Regions from separate parts of the Homo sapiens genome. Here regions 2, 3 and 4 are each linked to region 1. Evidence: fine-mapped expression QTL. A gene starts in region 1. Each other region holds a variant in brackets. All regions are shown on one strand. Distances are from middle to middle. Region 1 holds the start of FLYWCH2 (FLYWCH family member 2). Region 2 holds the start of PRSS22 (serine protease 22). Region 3 has its middle 6.6 kb from the start of FLYWCH1. Region 4 holds the start of FLYWCH1 (FLYWCH-type zinc finger 1).

What was found.
Region 2: its variant is fine-mapped to the expression of FLYWCH2 in whole blood (TOPMed, PIP 0.99).
Region 3: its variant is fine-mapped to the expression of FLYWCH2 in fibroblasts (GTEx, PIP 0.95).
Region 4: its variant is fine-mapped to the expression of FLYWCH2 in whole blood (TOPMed, PIP above 0.99).

Annotation. Positions count from the first base shown.
Region 1 is chr16:2,880,645-2,885,788 of GRCh38, reverse strand. FLYWCH2 (FLYWCH family member 2) reads right to left here and starts at 2,574. Exons shown (of 4, transcript NM_138439.3): 1 at 2,423-2,574. RefSeq lists silencers at 2,139-2,198, 2,289-2,458, 2,959-3,428 and an enhancer at 3,157-3,657.
Region 2 is chr16:2,854,982-2,860,125 of GRCh38, reverse strand. It overlaps PRSS22 (serine protease 22), which reads left to right and starts at 1,956. Exons shown (of 6, transcript NM_022119.4): 1 at 1,956-2,103; 2 at 3,278-3,304; 3 at 3,873-4,044; 4 at 4,275-4,552. The coding sequence starts at 2,022. RefSeq lists enhancers at 770-1,369, 1,370-1,970, 1,971-2,571. The variant G/A (reference allele first, on the strand shown) is at 2,344.
Region 3 is chr16:2,902,763-2,907,906 of GRCh38, reverse strand. No RefSeq gene overlaps it. Among named protein-coding and RNA genes, the nearest start is that of FLYWCH1, 6.6 kb to the left of the region's middle. RefSeq lists silencers at 613-682, 1,849-2,668, 3,339-3,568 and an enhancer at 2,283-2,783. The variant A/G (reference allele first, on the strand shown) is at 2,992.
Region 4 is chr16:2,909,402-2,914,545 of GRCh38, reverse strand. FLYWCH1 (FLYWCH-type zinc finger 1) reads right to left here and starts at 2,615. Exons shown (of 10, transcript NM_001308068.2): 1 at 2,392-2,615; 2 at 257-370. RefSeq lists silencers at 1,982-2,171, 2,145-2,244, 2,275-2,424, 2,445-2,754, 2,805-2,864. The variant G/C (reference allele first, on the strand shown) is at 2,509.

The sequences.
Region 1 (5,144 bases):
TTACAGTTGCATTATTCATGAAAGCCAAAACGTTTCGATGGATATTCAAAACAGCCCAAATATCCATCAATGGATGAATGAATAAGTACAATGTGGTGCATGTATAAAATGGAATATTATTTGGCAGTAAAAAAAATCTATGCTACAACATGAATGAACCTTGAAGAAATTATGCTCGGTAAAAGAAGCCAGACCCAAAAGACCACATATTATATGATTCCATTTACATGAAATTACTTAGAGTCTAGAGAATCTACAGAGTAGGAAAATCTATGGAGACAGAACGTAGATTTGTGGTTATCTCGGGATTGGGGTGGGGAAGGGGAGAATGAGAATTGACTACTAGTGGGTATGTGCTTTATGGGGTGATGAAAATGTCCTAAAAGGAATTTTCATGAGGGTTGCACAACTTTGTGATCACACTAAAGCCACTGAACTGTATATTTTTTTTTTTGTTTTGTTTTGTTTTTTTGAGACGGAGTCTCGCTCTGTCGCCCAGGCTGGAGTGCAGTGGCGTGATCTCACTGCAAGCTCCGCCTCCCGGGTTCACGCCATTCTCCTGCCTCAGCCTCCGGAGTAGCTGGGACTACAGGCGCCTGCCACCACGCCTGGCTAATTTTTTGTATTTTTAGTAGAGACGGGGTTTCACCGTGTTAGCCAGGATGGTCTCGATCTCCTGACCTCGTGATCCGCCCTCCTTGGCCTCCCAAAGTGCTGGGATAACAGGCGTGAGCCACCGCGCCCGGCCGAAATGTACACTTTAAATGGGTAAATTGCACGGTATGTGAATTATCTCAATAAAGTTGTTAAATATTCAGAAAAAGGTAAATTGAGTCTATGAACATATGAACAGCAGTTCCCCAATGTCACTATCCCTAAGAATCACCCGGAGTTTTTTTTTTGTTTTTGTTTTTTAGACGGAGTATCGCTCTTGTCGGCCAGGCTGGAGTGCAGTGGCGCGACCTTGGGTCACTGCAACCTCTGCCTCCCGGGTTCAAGCCTTTCTCCTGTCTCAGCCTCCCAAGTAGCTGGGATTACAAGCGTGCACCACCACACCCGGCTAATTTTGTATTTTTAGTTGAGACGGGGTTTCTCCATGTTGGTCAGGCTGGTCTCGAACTCCCGACCTCAGGTGATCCACCCTCCTTGGCCTCCCAAAGTGCTGGGATTACAGGCGTGAGCCACCGCGCCGGCCCCGACTAATTTTTGTATTTTTTTTTTTTTTTTTTTAGTAGAGACGGGGTTTCACCATGTTAGTCAGAATGGTCTCTATCTCCTGACCTTGTGATCTGCCTGCCTCGGCCTCCCAAAGTGCTAGGATTACAGGCGTGAACCACCGCGCCCGGCCTGTGTTGCTTTAAGCCACCTTATTTGTTAGGACAGCAACAGGAAACTAATACAAGGTTCAATCCCTCACTGACGATGTTCTGGACGACAGGACCCCTGCCTGGTGCCTCATGGTGGACCCACAGAATCATCTTCATACGCACGGGGGAGAAACATCACTAATGTCCACCAGCACCGGCATCCTCAGCCGCGAGGACAAATCCCTTACCCTCCCAGCAGGTTTCATCTGCGTAACGGAAATAGTGGTGAATTTATCAGGGGCTGTTAATAGATGACAGGCAAGGGTGAAGTCATCGCAAAAGTTCCCAGACGATATGGACAGCTGCTCCCCAATAATTACTGCTCCACGCAGTCCACAGCGGGGCTGTTATTGACCCCGACAGGATGACGGGACACTAAGGTGTGCAGTACACGTCCTCACAGGGAGATTTAAAAAACCGGCAGTGACCCCTGCCCCAAGAAGGCCAAGAACTGCTACTCTAAGGTGTGCAGCGCGGAGCTTCCCCACCATGGCAATTTCAGCCATGGCAGCTCCTTCCCCTAATCACCAGGGCTCAGAATCTTTATTTCACTCCTTTACCCAATGCAATTGGCATCAAACGCGGGCTGGGCTGCGCCCAAATGGTCCCAGCTCCCCGGCTCTCTCCTCTCTCAAGAATACCCACACCCTGAGGCCCCGAGTGTCTCCCCCGCCCCAGTATCTCACGCCTCCAACTCGCTGCCGTCCCTGCAGGGACCTCCCGAGCTGCAACCGTGGGACGAGGCCGGCGGGGGTTGGGGGGTGCCGGGAAGGCAGCGCTGGGCGCGGCGGACACGGCCAGGGACCGGCGGGCGAGTGCGGACCTCCTTCGTGTGGGGGTGTTGAGGCTTTGGACAAGGGACTGGAGGGGGTGGGGAAGGAGGGGCGAGAGGCAAAGAGGGAATCGCGGGAGACCCCACAGGAGGCGGCCTGAGCACCAGGACGCGGACCCCTCCTCAGCACCCGCAGCCCTCGGGACCCCCGAGAGAGCCGGGCCGGGGACTCGTCCATGCCGAGGACGCAGGACCCTCCCCGCCCGCCAGGGCCCGTCCTCACCGACGACAGCGGTGCCCTCCCTCTCCGGCGACAGCGCCGCGGCGGGTCCCTCAGCCTCCGCGCCAAGGGCCCCAGCCTCAGCTCGCGCTGTTACCTCAAGCCGGGGTCACAGCGCGAGCATGCGCAGCAAGGCCGCGGGTGCCCTGTCTTCTGGCTGGGGCCGCTCCTCCGCGTCTTGCCCGTGCGGCGTAGAGCTGGCGTCCGGCCAATCGGAGGGCGGAGGCGGGGCCAAAATTCAGTAAGGGGGCGGGGACACCCGGGATTGAGTGTCGCCGTCAGGGGCGGAGCCTCGGGGGACCTGCGGCCTGGATCCGGGTTGCGGGCGAGGTTATCCCAGCACCAGTGGGTTGGGCTTCACTGCGACCCCCGGGCTTCCTCACGGATTTGACTCCGGCTCTCTGCGGGGAAAACTGGAGCATTTGTTTAAAGGTTTTGCTCTCCCCCGTCGCGATACCGAGCGTGCGGAGGGAAGGTGTTTAGGCTCATGGAAGCCACTGCCTTGCTTTAAGCTCTGCATCCTTGACGACGCAGCAGCCTCATCCGCGCCATTGGTCCAGCCCTCGTCTATTAGTTTAGCCCCTGCCCATTGGTCCAGCCCTCGCCCAATAGTCCCGCCCTCTCTCTGTAGTTCAGCCCCTGTCCATTCATCCTTTCTCGTTATTGGTCCAGCCCTGGCCCATTGGGCCCACCCGTGCCCACGGGCCCCGCCCTCTCCGTGCCCAACCACGTTCACCCGGCCCAAGGGGTGCCCGGGACACTCGCCATCCTCCAGCCACCCACTGCAGTGGGACTGGGCTGGGTCCGGGCACAGGGAGCTGTGGGGCCCTGGGCGCTGCTTTCCTGGGACACTTGGCTGCAGCGTCCAGAGCGGCCCCCGCACAGCCCCCTAGGCTCACCGCGGCTCTCCCAGCCCCGCGGGGTCGCCCCCACTACCCCGGCCACCTTGGTCCCCCTAAGCCTGGCTCCGCGCCCCGCCCCCCTCGCTCTAAAGCGGCCGCTGAATGTGCCACCGCCCCAGGGCTCCAGGGTCCAGGTCGAGATCCTCTGGGGCCTCCCGCACCTTCCGCCTTCTCACGTCCGAATGCCAGCGTCGCTGCACGCCCTTCCTCTGCCCTGCCCCTCCCGGCCCTGGCTCTGCAGGTCTCTGAATCCCACCGTGGACTCCGCTACCAAGGCTCCCGCTGCCCCCATCCCACTATCCTATCTCCCCGGGCATTGTCTGGTGTCATTCAAGGCCTTTGTGCTTTTTTTTTTTTTTTAGAAACGAGAATTGCGCTCTGTCGCTCAGGCTGGAGTGCAGTGGCGTGATCTCGGCTCGCTGCAACCTCTGCCTCCCGGGTTCAAGCAATTCTCATGCCTCAGCCTACTGAGTAGCCGGGATTACGGGCGCCCGCCACCACGCCCGGCTAATTTTTGTACTTTTAGTAGAGACGGGTTTCACCATGTTGGCCAGGCTGGTATTGAACTTCTGACCTCAGGTGATCCACCCGCCTCGGCTTCCTAAAGTGCTGGGATTACAAGAGTGAGCCACCGTGCCCAGCTACCTTTGTGCATTTATTTGCTGTTATCTATTAATCATTCACAGACTACTGGTTGTTTTTAACTTGATGATGTTATAAATATCTTTGTATATGAATCTCTGATGTCAAAGATTTTTTTTTTTTTTTTTTGAGATGGAGTCTCGCTCTGTCGCCCAGGCTGGAGTGCAGTGGCGTGATCTCTGCTTATTGCAACCTCCGCCTCCCGGGTTCAAGCGATTTTCCCGCCTCAGCCTCCCAAGTAGCTGAGATTACAGGCACCGGTAATCATGCTTAATTTTTATATTTTTGTAGAGATGGGATTTCACCATGTTGGCCAGGCTGGTATCAAACCGGAGTTACCTCCGGTGATCTGCCCACCTCGGCCTCCAAAAGTGCTGGGATTAGACATGTGAGCCACCTTGCCTGTCGAGATATTAAAGATTTTTTTTTTTTGAGACAGAGTCTCACTCTGTTGGCAAGACCGGAGTGCAGTAGCACGATCTCAGCTCACTGCAACCTCCGCCTCCTGGGTTCAAGTGGTTCTCCTGCCTCAGCCTCCCAAGTAGCTGAGATTACAGGCGCCTGCCACCGCACCCAGCTAATTTTTTTGTATTTTTAGTAGAGACGGAGTTTCACCATCTTGGCCAGGCTGGTCTTGAACTCCTGACCTCGTGATCCACCCGCCTCAGCCTCCCAAAGTGCTGGGATTACAGGTGTGAGCCACCGCACCCAGCCAAAGATTTCTTGAAAGTCTTAAAAGAGGTCAAAGGAGGCAAATATTTTTAAAAGCTTTTTAAACATGTAGCCAAATTGTCCCCAAGGAAGTGCACAAGCTTGGGGTTAGATGCTTGGGTTCAAGTCCCTGCTGTGTCAATTGCCAGCTGTGTGAATGAGCAATTACATCCCCTCTCTGTGCCTCAGTGTCTTCACCTGATAAATGGGGGTGATAACGCACCCACCTCCTACAGCCATTGTGAGAATTCACAGAGTATTGTCATGTGGACTGATAAGAGTCTTGGTTGTTTTCTGTTTCTTTTTGTTTTTGTTTGAAACAGAGTTTCACTCTTGTTGCCCAGGCTGGGGTGCAGTGGTGTGATCTCGGCTGACTGCAACCTCCACCTCCTGGGTTCAAGTGATTCTCCTGCCTCAGCCTCCCAAGTAGCTGGGATTACAGGTGCCCGCCACTAAGCCCGGCTAATTTT
Region 2 (5,144 bases), 26 kb after region 1:
GAAATTTCTGCTGCAGTGCTGCTGCTGCTCAGAGACACTGCCCCTCCTTGGCCACTCTGCGTGGCCTTTTCCTGCAGTTCCCCCAAACCCCCTCTGAGTCCTGGGACAGAGAATAATGCATCCTCTGGGGCTCCCCAGGGCCCTGCTGTTTGACTTGTCTCTCGGTGGAGCAGGGCATGGCCTCTCTGCCACGAGAAAGTGCCAGTCGTCCTGCTGCCACCCTAACCCTTAACAGACTGAGGAGGTGGGCAGCACAGAGTCCACCCCCAGGGCAAAACCCGTCCTGCTCAGAGCCATGGAGTCCCTGAAGCAGCCATGGTGGTCTGCTAAGCCCCTGACCCACGCCACCCTGACTCTGCAGGGAGCAAGTTAGGGCTCACCCCAGGCAGGGTGAGGCACCTCCTCCAGGCTCCCGAAGCCTCCATGAGGGCAGTCCCAGCAGCCACCCCCAGTGTTGGGGTGCAGGTCCGGCTCCACCACTCACCCAGCAATCTCGGGCAAGTCACTTAACCGCCCTAAGCTGCCTCAGTTTCCTTATCTGCAGAGTGGGAATAATAAAGACATTTGAGGATTAGGAGGCAATGCATGGCACTCCTAAATGTTTGCTCTATTATATAAATACTATATTTATATTTGTATAAATATATTTATTACATACATATTCACTACTATGGTTTTTTTTTTTTTTTTTTGAAACAGAGTCTCGCTCTGTCGCCCAGGCTGGAGTGCAGTGGCGTGATCTCAGCTCACTGCAACCTCCGCCTCCCAGGTTCAAGCGATTCTCCTGCCTCAGCCTCCCAAGTAGATGGGACTAAGGGCGCCTGCCACCATGCCTGGCTAATTTTTTTTTTTTTGTATTTTTAGTAGAGACGGGGTTTTACTATGTTGGCCAGACTGGTATTGAACTCCTGACCTCATGATCTGTCCGTCTTGGCCTCCCAAAGTGCTGGGATTACAGGAATAAGCCACCCCACCCAGACACTATGGTTGTTTTTAATTCACCCCCGGCGGTAGCAAGGGCCCTGCTGGAGGCTTGTTGATCGAATGAGTGAAGGGGCGCAGGCTCCTGCCTCTTTGTAGAGGAGGAAGCCTGCCCTGCTTGGGTGGGAGTGTCCCAAGTGTGGGGCGCTGCAGGGCACTGAGTCAGGGAAGGTCTCACAGGATTCAGCCCCGGGTTGCCACTGTGGCAGCCGCTGGGGGGAAGCACCGAGAATCCACTCCCAGCCCAGGACCCGGCCCCCCACAGCCCAGCCCAGCAGCTCTTTGAATCCTGGGAGTCCCAGCCCTTCCCGGGGCCCCTCTTCTCTCAACCCCCCTGCTTGGCCGAGCCCTGGTGCCCATGGGCTCCTCCCCTTCCCAGGAGTCCAGGTGAGGTGAGTTGTCAGGTGTCTGAACCGCAGGGCAGAGCCCCGCCTCCAGGAACGACAGGAGGGCGGCCACCAGGAGGCCACCAAGGTCGCCACTCACCTGATTCACAGCTTTCGGGAAGTGGGTTAACGGGATTCCCAAGCCCGGGTTGCGCCAGGTCTCTGGGCTGAGTCACAGGGGCCTGGGGCCCTGCAGGTGGGAGCCGTTACTGAGCTTTGGGCACCCCCTTGATCCCTAAGGCCCTAGGACCACCCCCAACACCCAGTACCCCAGACTTCAGCCTCTCCAAACCCAGGCCCTCCCCAGCCCGGAACCCCTTCCTTTCAGTGCCCTGGCACCTTTCTCTGCCCCTGGACAATTAATGTCAGGGACCTCTGGGCCCAAGCCCCCTCCCCTGCCCTTCCAGAGGCCACATCCTGGGGTCTCAGCTAGAGCCCCCCCAGAGCCCTGTAGCGGCTGGCTTCCTCCCCGCAGCCCCGCCCTCTGCCCAGGACCCACAGCCGGGGTGGCCGCGGGAGCCACCTGGGGACTGGTCTGACGGCATTCCGCCTCCCAGGATAAAACCTGGGGCGACCTGCAGGGAACCTACACACCCTGACCCGCATCGCCCTGGGTCTCTCGAGCCTGCTGCCTGCTCCCCCGCCCCACCAGCCATGGTGGTTTCTGGAGCGCCCCCAGCCCTGGGTGGGGGCTGTCTCGGCACCTTCACCTCCCTGCTGCTGCTGGCGTCGACAGGTACGTCCGGAGGCTGCTCCTCCCTCCTCCCTCTCACCTCCACCCTCCTTCCCTCCTTCCCTCCCTCCCTCTCTCCCTCCTGGCCTTGCCTCTCTCATCTCCTTTCCGCTTCTGCTCTGTTTATCTCTTGCTCCTTAACTGCTCTGTGCCTCGGTTTCTTCTACGGCTGTGAGGATGAAACAGAAAACGCAGCAAGTACGCAGCGCGCCTCGGTCTCCAGTTACCGTCGGCGTCGCCATC[G/A]CCTGCTCCCTCTCGCCTCCGTGTTCTCCCATCTCCTCGTCCTCCGCTGCTTGCCTCTGGGGAAGCACCGTTTTGTGTTGTTCCTGCCGCAGGAGGTCAGGGGAGGGCACACCAGCGGCAGCAGCGTCCAGAGCCGAGGGGCTCAGGTCTGTGCCTCCCTCGAGGAGCCGGTCCTGGTCCCCGGAAGGCAGGCTGGACGGGAAGCTGCGGGAGGGCAGGGTCACAGCTGTGCAGCCAGGGCCTGGCCAGGCCCCAGGAAATGCCCCGCCGGTAGGGGCCCTGGGGTTGAGAGACTTGAGAGTCTCCCTGGGCACTGGAGGGCTAGAGGTTCCTCACCACCAGGTACTCAAGGGGACCCCCTCCTCACTGGGCGCTGGGACGCCTGCTCACTGGGCGCTGGGACCCCTCCTCACTGGGCGCTGGGACCCCCTCCTCACTGAGCGCTGGGACCCCCTCGTCACTGGGCGCTGGGGACCCCTCCTCACTGGGCGCTGGGGAGCCCTCCTCACTGGGCGCTGGGGACCCCTCCTCACTGGGCGCTGGGGAACCCTCCTCACTAGGCGCTGGGGAGCCCTCCTCACTGGGCGCTGGGGACCCCTCCTCACTGGGTGCTGGGACCCCTTCCCACTGGGCACTGGACCCCTTCTCACTGGGTGCTGGGGGCTTCTCGCTGGGCGCTGAGGGACCCTCCTCACTGGGTACTGGGACCCCTCCTCACTGGGCGCTGAGGGACCCTCCTCAGGGGGTGCTGGGACCCCTCCTCACTGGGCGCTGAGGGACCCTCCTCACTGGGTGCTGGGACCTCCACCTCACTGGGCACTGGGATCCCTTCTTACTGGGTGTTGGGGGCCTTCCTCACTGGGCGTTGAGGGCCCCTCACCACTGTGTCCTGGGGCCCCTCACCGGCCTAACCGTTTCCTTCTCTTGCCCTCAGCCATCCTCAATGCGGCCAGGATACCTGGTGAGTGGAGCTGGCAGCTCTGACGGGAGGGAGAAGGGAGGAGGCCCACGCGCAGGCAGTGTCTATGTGTCCGTCCCCTGGGCACAGGTCAGAAAGGGGCTGGGGTGAGAGGGGGAAAGAGCTAGAGGGGAAGGGAGGCAGGAAGGAGACACGGATGCAAGGAGAAAGGCTTGAGAGATGCCAGGGCCAGAGGAGAGAGAGAGCCAGGAAGGTGAACAGAGTGGAAAGCAGGGTAAGGAAAGAGGGGGAGGGAGAGACCAGGTGCAGCTGACAAGGAGTGAGTGGAAAGGCCAGGGCCAGGTGAGGACCAGCAGAGAGTGAGGATGGAGGGAGGGATGGGACGGGGAGGTGGGCGGAGCTTGGGGTATGGGTGGAGCTTAGGATGTGGGTGGAGCTTGGGGTGTGGGTGGAGCTTGGAGTGCAAGTGAAACTTGGGATGTGGGTAGAGCTTGGGGACATGAACGGAGCTTGGGCTGTGGGCAAAGCTTGGGGTGCAGGCCTAGGGATTGGGATTCCGGGGGTGGGTTGTAGGAAGTTGGAGATAACAAAACTTGACCGTACCCTCCAGTTCCCCCAGCCTGTGGGAAGCCCCAGCAGCTGAACCGGGTTGTGGGCGGCGAGGACAGCACTGACAGCGAGTGGCCCTGGATCGTGAGCATCCAGAAGAATGGGACCCACCACTGCGCAGGTTCTCTGCTCACCAGCCGCTGGGTGATCACTGCTGCCCACTGTTTCAAGGAGTATGTACAGCCGGCCTGGGGCACTTGATCTTCTAAGGCCCTGGGCTTTGTGCCCCAGGCCCTGGGCTCCCTTTACAGGCTCTGCTTCCGGGCCTCTGTTCAATCTTGGTGCCCCTCGATTCTACCTAGAAGCCTCTCCTGCCTTCAGGGGCCTTCACACCCATGCTGTTCCCCCAGGTACCTCCTCCCAGACCAGGCCTGGCTGATCCTCCCCTTCCCTTTCCTTCCAGCAACCTGAACAAACCATACCTGTTCTCTGTGCTGCTGGGGGCCTGGCAGCTGGGGAACCCTGGCTCTCGGTCCCAGAAGGTGGGTGTTGCCTGGGTGGAGCCCCACCCTGTGTATTCCTGGAAGGAAGGTGCCTGTGCAGACATTGCCCTGGTGCGTCTCGAGCGCTCCATACAGTTCTCAGAGCGGGTCCTGCCCATCTGCCTACCTGATGCCTCTATCCACCTCCCTCCAAACACCCACTGCTGGATCTCAGGCTGGGGGAGCATCCAAGATGGAGGTGCGGCTTCTTCCTCTCCAAGGTGGTTGGGGGCAGATGGGGACAGAGGATGGCAGACACTCAGGGACACAGACACCATGAGCAACAAAGGGTGGAGGCCAGAGGCACAGCATGACAGAGGTGGAAGGAAAGATGGGCTGCAATCCAGAAGAAACCTTGGTGGGCAATTTCAGGCCATTTCTCTTTTCTTTTCTTTCTTCTTCTTCTTTTTTTTTTTTTTTTTTTTGAGACAGGGTGTTACTCTGTCACCCAGGCTGGAGTGCAGTGGTGTGATCCTAACTCACTGCAGCCTTTGCCTCCCAGGCTCAAGTGATCCTCCCACCTCAGCCTCCCAGGTAGCTGGAACTACAGGTGTGTGCTACCACACCTGGCTAATTTTTGTATTTTTTGTAGAGACAGGGTTTTTCTGTGTTGGCTGGGCTGGTCTTGAACTGTTGGGCTCAAGCAATCCACCAGCCTCAGCCTCCCAAAGTGCCGGGATTACAGGTGTGAGCCACTGTGCCTGGCCTCATTTCTACTTCAAAAGTATCTGGCTATGTTTTGAGGCAACAGCCAGACCCGTGAAGCTATTCAATTCATCAATACAGGAATG
Region 3 (5,144 bases), 22 kb before region 1:
CTTTATCCCAATATTATAATAATCCCCGCTCTATAATCATAACCTAGGAAAAACCAGGCCATACAGAGATAGTGTAGCAGGACGAGTCGCAGACAAAACTCCTCAGACACCGGATTAAAGAAGGAAGAGGTTTTTTTATTCGGCCGGGAGCGTCAGCAGACTCGTGTCTTAAGAGCCGAGCTCCCTGAAAAAGAAATTCCTAGCCCTTTTAAGGGCTTACAACTCTAAGGGGTCTACGTGAAAAAGTCGTAATAGATCAAGTAAGCATGAGGAACGTGACTGGGGGCTACAAACATCAGTTAACAGAACAAAAAGTTTTATAGTGCTTTCTCATACAATGTCTGGAATTTACAGATAACACCAGTAGTTTTGGTCAGGGGTTAATAATAATATTATTATTTTAGCCACCAGGGCCGGGTGGTGGCGCCAAGGTCGTCTAGCTATTTATCTTACTTCTGTTTCTTTCCAACTTTTTGCTTTCTCTCTTTTCTCCTGTCTTATAAACTAGGGAAAAGGGGAGGTTGGGGAGAAACTGGGAAGGACAACAGGAGAAGTGGTGGCCTCATACCATAATAGGAGCTGAGGGGACACAGTGAGGTGTGACCAGAAGACAAGAGTGCGAGCCTTCTGTTATGCCCGGACAGGGCCACCAGAGGGCTCCTTGGTCTAGCGGTGACGCCAGCGTCTGGGAAGACACCCGTTGCCAGGGGGACCATGGTCTAGCTGTAGCGAAAAGTGTCAAGGAACAACACCCGCTACTTAGCAGACCAGGAAAGGGGGGGGGGGTCTCCCTTTCCCCGGGGGAGTTTAGAGAAGACTCTGCTCCTCCACCTCTTGTGGAGGGCCTGACATCAGTCAGGCTTGCCCACAGTTATCCGGAGACCTAACCGTCTCCCTGTGATGCTGTGCTTCAGTGGTCATGCTCCTAGTCTGCCTTCATGTTCCATCCTGTACACCTGGCTCTGCCTTCTAGATAGCAGTAGAAAATTAGTGAAAGTACTGAAAGTCTCTGATATGCAGAAATAATGGTGTAAGCTGTCTTTCTCTTTGTCTCCTCTCTCTCTCTGCCTCGGCTGCCAGGCAGGGAAGGGCCCCCTGTCCAGTGGACACATGACCCACGTGACGTTACCTATCATTGGAGATGACTCACACTCTTTACCCTGCCCCTTTTGCTTGCATCCAGTAAATAACAGTGCAGCCAGACATTCGGGGCCGCTACCGGTCTCCGCACATTGGTGGTAGTCGTCCCCCGGGCCCAGCTGTCTTTTCTTTTATCTCTTTGTCTTGTGTCTTTATTTCTACACTCTCTCATCGCCGCACACGGGGAGAGACCCACAGACCCTGTGGGGCTGGTCCCTGCACTCTGCCTCCCGGATTCAAGTGATTCTCCTGCCTCAGCCTCCTGAGTAGCTGGGATTACAGGCATGCGCCACCACGCCCGGCTAGTTTTGGATTTTTAGTAGAGTCTGAGTTTCTCCATGTTGGTCAGGCTGCTCTCTAACTTCCGACCTCAGGTGATCCACCCACCTTGGCCTCCGAAAGTGCTGAGATTACAGACGTAAGCCACCCCTCCCGGTCTTAATTTTAATTTTTACTAGAGACGTGGTCTCCCTATGTTCCCCAGGCTGGTCTCAAACTCCTGAGCTCAAGCGATTCTCTCTCCTTGGCCTCCCAAAGCATTGGGAAACAGACGTGAGCCACCCCAGTCAACCTCCTTTTGGGATTCTTGCAACTTTTCTGTAGGTGAGAAATTATGTCAAAGTAGAAGCTAGATAAAGGAATACTCCCTTCATCCCCTGAGCATTCCACGAGGTGAAATCCTCCTTTTCCCATTGGCCCAGCCACCGCCCAGCCCGTGGCCATTGGTCCAGCCCTCGCCCATTGGTCCAGCCCCGGCCCATCCCTCGTCCATTAGTCCAGCCCTTGCCATTGGTCCAACCCATCCATTGGTTCAGCCCCGCCCATTGGTACCGCCCCCTTCCATTGGCTCAGACCCCGTCCTTTGGCCCCGCCCTGCCCATTGGCCCTTCGCTCGCCCATTGGTCTAGCCACGCCCATTGGCCCAGCCCATCCCTCGCCCATTGGTCCATCCCCGCCCTTTTGTTCCACCCCTTCCGTCGGCTTAGTGCCCGCCCTTGGCCCGGCCCGCCCATTGGTCCAGCCCCGCCCATTGGCCCAGCCCCGGCCCAGCCCTAGCCCATTGGCCCCGCCCCGGCCCAGCCCTAGCCCATTGGCCCCGCCCCGCCCATTGGTTCAGCCCCACCCATTGGTTCCGCTCCCTTCTATTGGCTCAGCTCCGCCCCTTGGCCCCACCCCGCCCATTAGTTCAGGCCCCATTCATTGATGTCCAGCACTCGCCCATTGGTCCACGCCTTGCCCATTGGTTTAGCCCTCGACCACTGGCTCACCGCTAGCGAATTGATTCGGTCCCCGCCCACTGGTCCCTCCCCTGCCCACGGGCCCCGCCCTTCCCGCTGTCCCTTCCTGGCTCAGCGCGCGCCAAGGACACATTCTCCAGCAACGCGGTGCGGTACCGGGCTGAGTCCAAGCGCCAGGAGCCGCGGGGTCCTGGTTGCTGTTTTCCTGTGACGCTTGGCGGCGGCGGCCAGAGCGGCCCCAGCACCGTGCCCTGGGCTCACTGCGGCTCTCCTATCACCCAGGGGTCGTCCCGGTCCGCCCGCACTCTTCTCTCCGCCCGACCCCCCTCTGGCTGCGCGTCCTCGGCTGGCTCGGGGAGGGCGCCGCTCCTCCCTGGGAGACCCCAGGGAGACCCGCCTCACGGCCTGCGCACCTCCTCTCGCTCTAAAGCGGCCGCTGGAGGAGCCACAGGTCTGGCGGGTCCATGTCGAGGTGCCCTGGGCTCCCGCACGACCCCACGGCCTCCTGCGTCCCGCACCTCTTGTGTCCTGCAGCCGCCCGCGTCCTCTCTGGGACCCCTTCCTTCCGAGTCCGTCCACATCCCCGGCGGTTCCTCTGAAATCCGCACCCCCC[A/G]ACCCCGGAACCTCGGCTCTTCCGCGCGCTCCTCGTCCCCGCATCCTCAGCCCCTAGATGTCCTCCGCGTTCTGTATCCCCCTGCACCACACCGCTCCCTCTCTCCCTGCCCTTCGCACTAGGACCCTCAGGGACCAAAATCGTCCAAGATGCCTTCCCTGGTGTCGAGTTTATGTTAAGGGGTTGGGTGAGGAGACCAAAAAGCAGTGGATGTGGTAACCACAGGGGCGCCGTGTGTCCGAGTCGGGCGCCTGTCGGAGGAAGCGAGACGGGAGGAGAGGCTGCGGCTCGCGCCCTGGGCAGCGACAGTGTGGACGCCATTGCAATTTCCCAACGGCTGCCACCCGCAGGGTCAACACACAGGCCCCCTCCACCCCTCCCAGTCGCCCACCTCCCATCCCTGCAGAAGCCACCTTAGAGCCGGTGTCTGGGCCGTAAGGAGCCCGGGTGGGGGTCAGGCGGGTGGGCGGAGCGGGACTGAGGCTGCGGGGCGGAACCGCACTCCTGGCTGCCAGCACTGCCTGGGTCCTGGGGAGGCTGCTGGGCCGCCGCTGAGTCCGCGCGCGCCCTCTCCCGGCCGTCAGGAGCATCGGCCAGAACGTCTCCAGATTCCGGCCCTGAACCCGGATGAGGCCCTGCCCAGCGCTCGGTGCTGTCCAAGGAAAATGAGACCTCGAGGTGAAAAGCGCAGAGGCTGTGCACGCTAGGGCCAAGCGGAGGACGCGTTATTACTGTTTTCTTCTTGATGATAAAACCAGGTGTTGACAAATGCCGGAGAGATCGGCATTCGCAGGACGTGGGTTGAATGTAACTTGCATTCTTCCAGTTCGGCAATCTCACTTCTAGAACTCTGTCCTAGGAACATACGAGGCTATTTCAGGATTGCTTACAACCTGGAGGCAACCGGGATGTGTCTGGCCACTGGAGCTAGTGGATTTCACGCATCCCTGCAGTGGGCATCAAGCAGCAAAAAGAATGTTGTGCAGCATTCATAAGAAGGAAGACATTTGTAACACATTATGAAAAAACATATGTGGGCCAGGCACGGTGGCTCATGCCTGTAATCCCAGTACTTTAGGAGGCCGAGGCGGGAGGATGACTTGAGGTGAGGAGTTCAAGACCAGCCTGGCCAACATGGCGAAACCCCGTCTCTACTTAAAAATACAAAAATTAGCCAGGCACGCTAGCGCGCGCCTGTATTCCCACCTACTCGGGAGGCTGAGTCAGGAGAATCACTTGAACCCGGGAGGCGGAGGTTGCAGTGAGCCGAGATCTCCCCACTGCACTCCAGCCTGGACGGCAGAGCGAGACTCTGTCTCAACAACAAATGTGTGGCATCACCTTGATTTTCTGAAAATAAAAAAATTTTAAAAATATATATTTTTTGGCCGGGCGCGGTGGCTCACGCCTGTAATCGTAGCACTTTGGGAGTCTGAGGCGGGTGGATCACCTGAGGTCGGGAATTCGAGACCAGCCTGACCAACATGGAGAAACCCTGTCTCTATTAAAAATAAAAAATTAGCCAGGTGTGGTGGTGCATGCATGTAATCCCAGCTACTGGAGAGACTGAGGCAGGAGAATCACTTGGACCCAGGAGGCAGAGTTTGTAGTGAGCCAAGATCGCACCACTGGACTCCAGCCTGGGCAACAAGAGTGAAACTCTGGCTAAATATATATATATAGCCAGAGTTTATATATACAAATATATAAATATAAATATATATAAATATATAAATAAATATATATAAATATATAAATAAATATATATAAATATATATAAATATGTATAAATATAAATATATATATAGCCAGAGTATATATATTATATACACACACACACACATATATTTTTTAAAATTTACCTCTAAGTAGTGGAATTACTGGAGGTAATTTGTAATTTTTGTCCCCTTTTCAAAATTAAAATTAATGACATCTACACTCAGCAACCACACACATGGGCGGGGGGCACCGTTCTTGGAGCTACTGCAATACCAGGTCGATGCATGGAGTGAACTAAGTAAGCTGCTATTGCAACCCCCTCCTACAAAAATCCACTTTATATACATTTTTTTAGACAGGGTCTCATCATGTCACCCACTCTGGAGCTCAGTGGTGCCATCATGGCTGACTGCAGCCTTGACTTCCTGGGCTCA
Region 4 (5,144 bases), 29 kb before region 1:
AGTTCATGGTGCATCACTCTCCTGTCCTCTCTCCCCTTCTCCCAGAATTGAGGGTGCGGAGCAATTTGAGTGCAATGCCAGATGGCCTACTGGGACGCTGCGGTCCTGCTGGTGACCACAAGGGCTCAGCGTAGACCTAAGGGTCACATGTTAGCAACTGTCAGGTGTCTCTCAGACACCAAGGGGTCCAAACTCTAATCAGTAAGGCTCGAAAACCAGGCGGCTCTGTCGGCAGCTGATGGAGCCACAGAATTACCTTCACACGTGAGTGAGAAGCGTCACCATCATCCCCCACACCTGGGTCACGGCGCTGGCTTGCTGGGCAGGAGCCCCGGGGGCAAATCCCGTAACTTCTCTGGGCTGGTTTCACCTGTGAAGAAAGTAAAGTGGCAAATGAAATACTGCAGGTGAAATTATTCCATGAACTGTCGACCATTAGACAAGAACAAGGTGTTCAGCATCCAGGTGCAGTAGGGGTCCTGAGTGATAGGAGCGGGAGGAGGGAAGGCCCTCTGTTTAAAAAGCTTCTGAATGGGCCGGTGGCACGGTGGCTCACACCTGTCATCTCAGCAGTTTGGGAGGCTCAGGTGAGAGAATTGTTTGAGCCCAGGAGTTCGAGACCAGCCTAGGCAACATAGTGAGACCTGCCCCTCGCCCCCACCATTTCTACTAAAAAAATTTTTTTTTAAAGCTCCTGGATGACTCCAGTGTCTACCCACCTCCCACCTACCCGCAACTGAACCATGAGCGTTGGAGGTGCACTTGCCTCAGACATGAACCACTATGGTGACATCACAGGCTCAGTGGGTGCACACAGACATTCCTCCTGAAGAGGTTGAAGGTGGCAGAGATGCCCAGATAATTAAAATTTACTCTAAAAATGAACTTCACAATCTCAGCACCGTTGGCATTTTGGGCCGGATGATTCTGCTGTGGGAGGCTGTCCTGTTCAGCGTGGGGTGTTCAGCAGCAACCCCGGTCTCTACCTGCCAGATCCCACTGTCATGCCCTACCACACGTTGTGACCACCAACACTGCAGAACGTTCCCTGGGGTGCAGAATTGCCCAAGAGCCACAGCTCCAAAGCAACTTAGAAATTAGAGCGCACAGAAAGGGAGAGCTTGGCCAATGAGACCCCCCCAGCCCGGTATTCCCCAGTCACCCTCCATCATAATATAAGTTTATTTACTCCTTCCCACAGCCTAATGCATCCTCAAATCTCTCTCCCTCTATGCCTGATATACCCATCTTCCCTCTCCTTCCCACTCCCACCAACTCAGGACATGATCCCTTACCACGACCTCTTTAGCCCAAGCCAAAGCCTCTGAACGATCTTGCCAGCTTTGGCAAGCAGCCACTCCAATTCTCCACATAGGGTGCTGACAGGTCACTCTTCCTAAAGCTTAACTTTCAGCATGTCTCTCCCCAATTAAATCATCTCCATCTCCAGCCTTAGTGCATCATCAGCTGGGCGTCATAAACACTCCGCAATCTAGCCCCAACCTCAGCCTTGTTCCTTCCACACGTCCCGCCAGTAGCACTTGGGAAAGGAACAAGAGAAACATGATATAATCACACGAGAAAATCTAGATCAAGCCCTGGAAATCATATTGGCCCTTGGAAAGCAGAAATATGCAAATAAAAATAAGCCATTTCGTTGGAATTGGAGTTTGCACATGATTATCTGACTATGGGAGTTCAGCTTCCAGTACAAGGAATAAAGGAACAACAGGCAGGGTTTAGAGCGAGGGTTTCAACTACGTCAGACCCGTTATGTGCAGGCTCCATGGGTTAGCAGCAGCCTTTTGGAACGGGGTGGAAGAGAATGGAACGGAATTTAATCCGAACAGATCCAGCTGCGTCATGTGAGCTTAAACAAGCGTCTCCCTTTAAACTTGTGCTTCAGTCATCCAGACCCACAGGCACAGAGTACACGCGTAAAAGGCATTTCTCAGTGTCGGCTGTGGGTCAACAAAGTTCGAAAGCCGTCACCGGAGATCTATAGGGTCAGAAGCGGGAGCGGGGTGCGTCCCGACCCGCAAAAGTGCAAGGTCACTGGGACCGCCCGAGCTGCAACCGTGGGACGGGGCTGATGCTGCGGGTCCAGGAAGGCAGCGCTGGGCGGGGCAGACACCGCCAGGAAACGGCGGACGAGTGCGGGGATCCTTGATGTGGGGGTGTCGGGCTTAGGCCAGGGGACGGGGGGGTGGGGATGGAGGGGCGAGGAGCAAGGAGGGAATCGCGGGAGACCCCACAGGAGGCGGCCTGAGCGCCGGGACGCAGACCCCTCCCCAGCACCCGCAACCCTCGGGACCCCCGGGAGAGCCGGGCTGCGGGCGCGTCCACGCCGGGGACGCGGGACATTCCCCGCCCGCAGGGGCCTGTCCTCACCGACGGCAGCGGGGCCCTCCCTCTCCCGCGACAGCGCCGCGGCGGATCCTTCAGCCTCTGCCGCTGCAGCAGCGAGCGTCGACCCCGCGACCCAGGCCGCCGCCGCCACCCCGACCC[G/C]GGCACCAGCTCCCAGCCCCGACCTGCCCCTCGGGAGCGAGCCCCGTGACCGCGCGCGCGACCCCGCCGGGGAGCCGGCCTTGCGGAACGCTCAGGCGCGCTACTTCAGAGCATGCGCAGCAAGACCGCGCGGCCCGTTCCTTAGGTAAACCGCTGCTCCGGGTCTTCCCTGCGCGGCGCCGAGCCGCAGGCCTGGCCTGTCAGCGCATGGGGGCGGGGACGTAACTCACGGAAAAGGCGGGGCCATCCCGAGATTGGACGGCGGCGTCCAGGGGCGGAGCTAGGATGGGGGAGCTGAACAGGACGCTCTTGGCGTAAAGGGGCTGGGGTAGGGGGCGCTTAATTGAGACCCCAGGACGGTCCCCAGTATCTGAGGCTGCCCGCAGGAAACGGAGCGTTTGCTGAGATGCACTCTTGGGCCTGTCAGTTTCCTGACCCCGTGGGAAGGCGATTCTCATGCATCTCATTGACGCCCCCAGTGACCCTACCCCAGAGCGGAACCAGTGTGAGATTCAAATAAACAGCGATAGCAACGGATTATAACCTTGACTACGATATGAGTCCAAACTGAAGGAAATAAGTCAACGGGGGAGAAGGGACAGTTGTTTCTTACATCAGAAAGCCAACAACGACAAAAAAATACCTGGGCCGGGCGCGGTGGCTCACGCCTGTAATCCCAGCACTTTGGGAGGCCGAGGCGGGTGGATCACCTGAGGTCAGGAGTTCGAGAACAGCGTGGCCAACATGGTGAAACCCCGTTTCTACTAAAAATACGAACATTAGTCGGGCGTGGTACTGGGCGCCTGTAATCCCAGCTACTCGGGAGGCTGAGGCAGGAGAATAACTTGAACCCGGGAGGCGGAGGTTGCAGTGAGCCGAGACGGCGCCACTGCACTCCAGCCTGGGCGACAGAGTGAGACTGTGTCTAAAAAAAAAAAAGCAGAAATATTACATAGTATTACAAAGTCTGCATGACGTGTGATGTAACACATTGAATGTAGAAGCAGGTATGAGAGCCAGTAGTCTTCTTTTAAGCCCGCAACAAAGATATTTGCAAAAATGTATAACTATGTCACTCGTCTCACTAAATTTCTTTGGGAAAATATTGTACTTTTTCATAAAACTATGTTAACACAATCAGCTTACTATTTTTTGGTAAGATCTTTATTGAAATATAATTCACATACCATGCATTTCTCCCATTTAAAGTGTACAATTAAATGATATGTAGTATAGTCAGAGAGTTGTGCAAACAGCACCATAGTCAGTTTTAAAACCTTTCATCACTCCAAGAAGAAACCTTTAGCCACCACCCTCCAATTTGCTAATCACCCCAGCCCTAAGTAATATGATCTATTTTCTGTCTTTATAGATTTGCGTATTCTGCATATTTCATATAAATGAAATCATGCAACAAATATGTGGTCTCTTGTGACTGACTTCTTTCGCCTAGCCTTAGCATAGCACTTTCAAAGTTCATCCATGTTGGCCGGGTACAGTGACTCTTGCTTGTAATCCCAGCACTTTGGGAGGCTGAGACAGGAGCATCGTTTGAGCCCAGGAGTTTGAGATCAGCCTAGGCAACATAGTGAGACTCTTTCTCTACAGAAAAAAAGAAAAGAGGAACAAGAGAAAATTAGCTGGATGTGGTGATGCGCTGTAGTCCCAGCTACTCAGGAGGCTGAGGTGGAAGGATCACTTGAGCTTGGGAGCTGGAGGCTGCAGTGAGCTGCGCTCATGCCACTGCACTCCAGGCTGGGCGACAGAGCAAGACCCTGTTCAAAAATAAAATAGTAGCAGAACTTAATTACTTTTTTTTTTTCTTGAGATGGAGTCTTGCTCTGTCGCCCAGGCTGGAGTGCAGTGGCACGACCTCAGCTCACTGCAACCTCCATCTCCCGGGTTCAAGTGATTCTCCTGCCTCAGCCTCCTGAGCAGCTGGGATTGGGATTATTACAGACAGTTGCCACCACGCCCGGCTTTTTTTTTTTTTTTTTCTTTTTTGAGACGGAGTCTCGCTCTGTCGCCCAGGCTGGAGTGCAGTGGCGCCATCTCGGCTCACTGCAAGCTCCGCCTTTCGGGTTCACGCCATTCTCCTGCCTCAGCCTCCCGAGTAGCTGGGACTACAGGCGCCTGCCACTGCGCCCAGCTAATTTTTTGTATTTTTAGTAGAGACGGGGTTTCACCGTGGTCTCGATCTCCTGACCTTGTGATCCGCCCGCCTCGGCCTCCCAAAGTGCTGAGATTACGGGCGTGAGCCACCACGCCCAGCCCCTCCAGCTTTTTTTGAGAGGAGTCTGACTGCGATGCCCAGGCTGGAGTGCAATGGCGCTATCTTGGCTCACTGCAACCTTTGCTTTCCGGTTCAAGAGATTGTCCGCCTCAGCTTCCCCAATAGCTAGGACTACATGCGTGCGCCACCATGCCCGGCTGATTTTTGTATTTTTAGGAGAGACGGGGTTTCACCACGTTGTCCAGGCTGATTTCAAACTCCTGACCTCAGGTGATCTGCCCGACTTGGCCTCCCAAAGTGCTGGGATTACAGGCATGAGCCACCATGCCCGGCCAGGATGCTGTTTTTGTTTCTTCGTTTGTTTTGTTTAGTTTTTGAGACAGAATCTCCCTCAGTCGTCCAG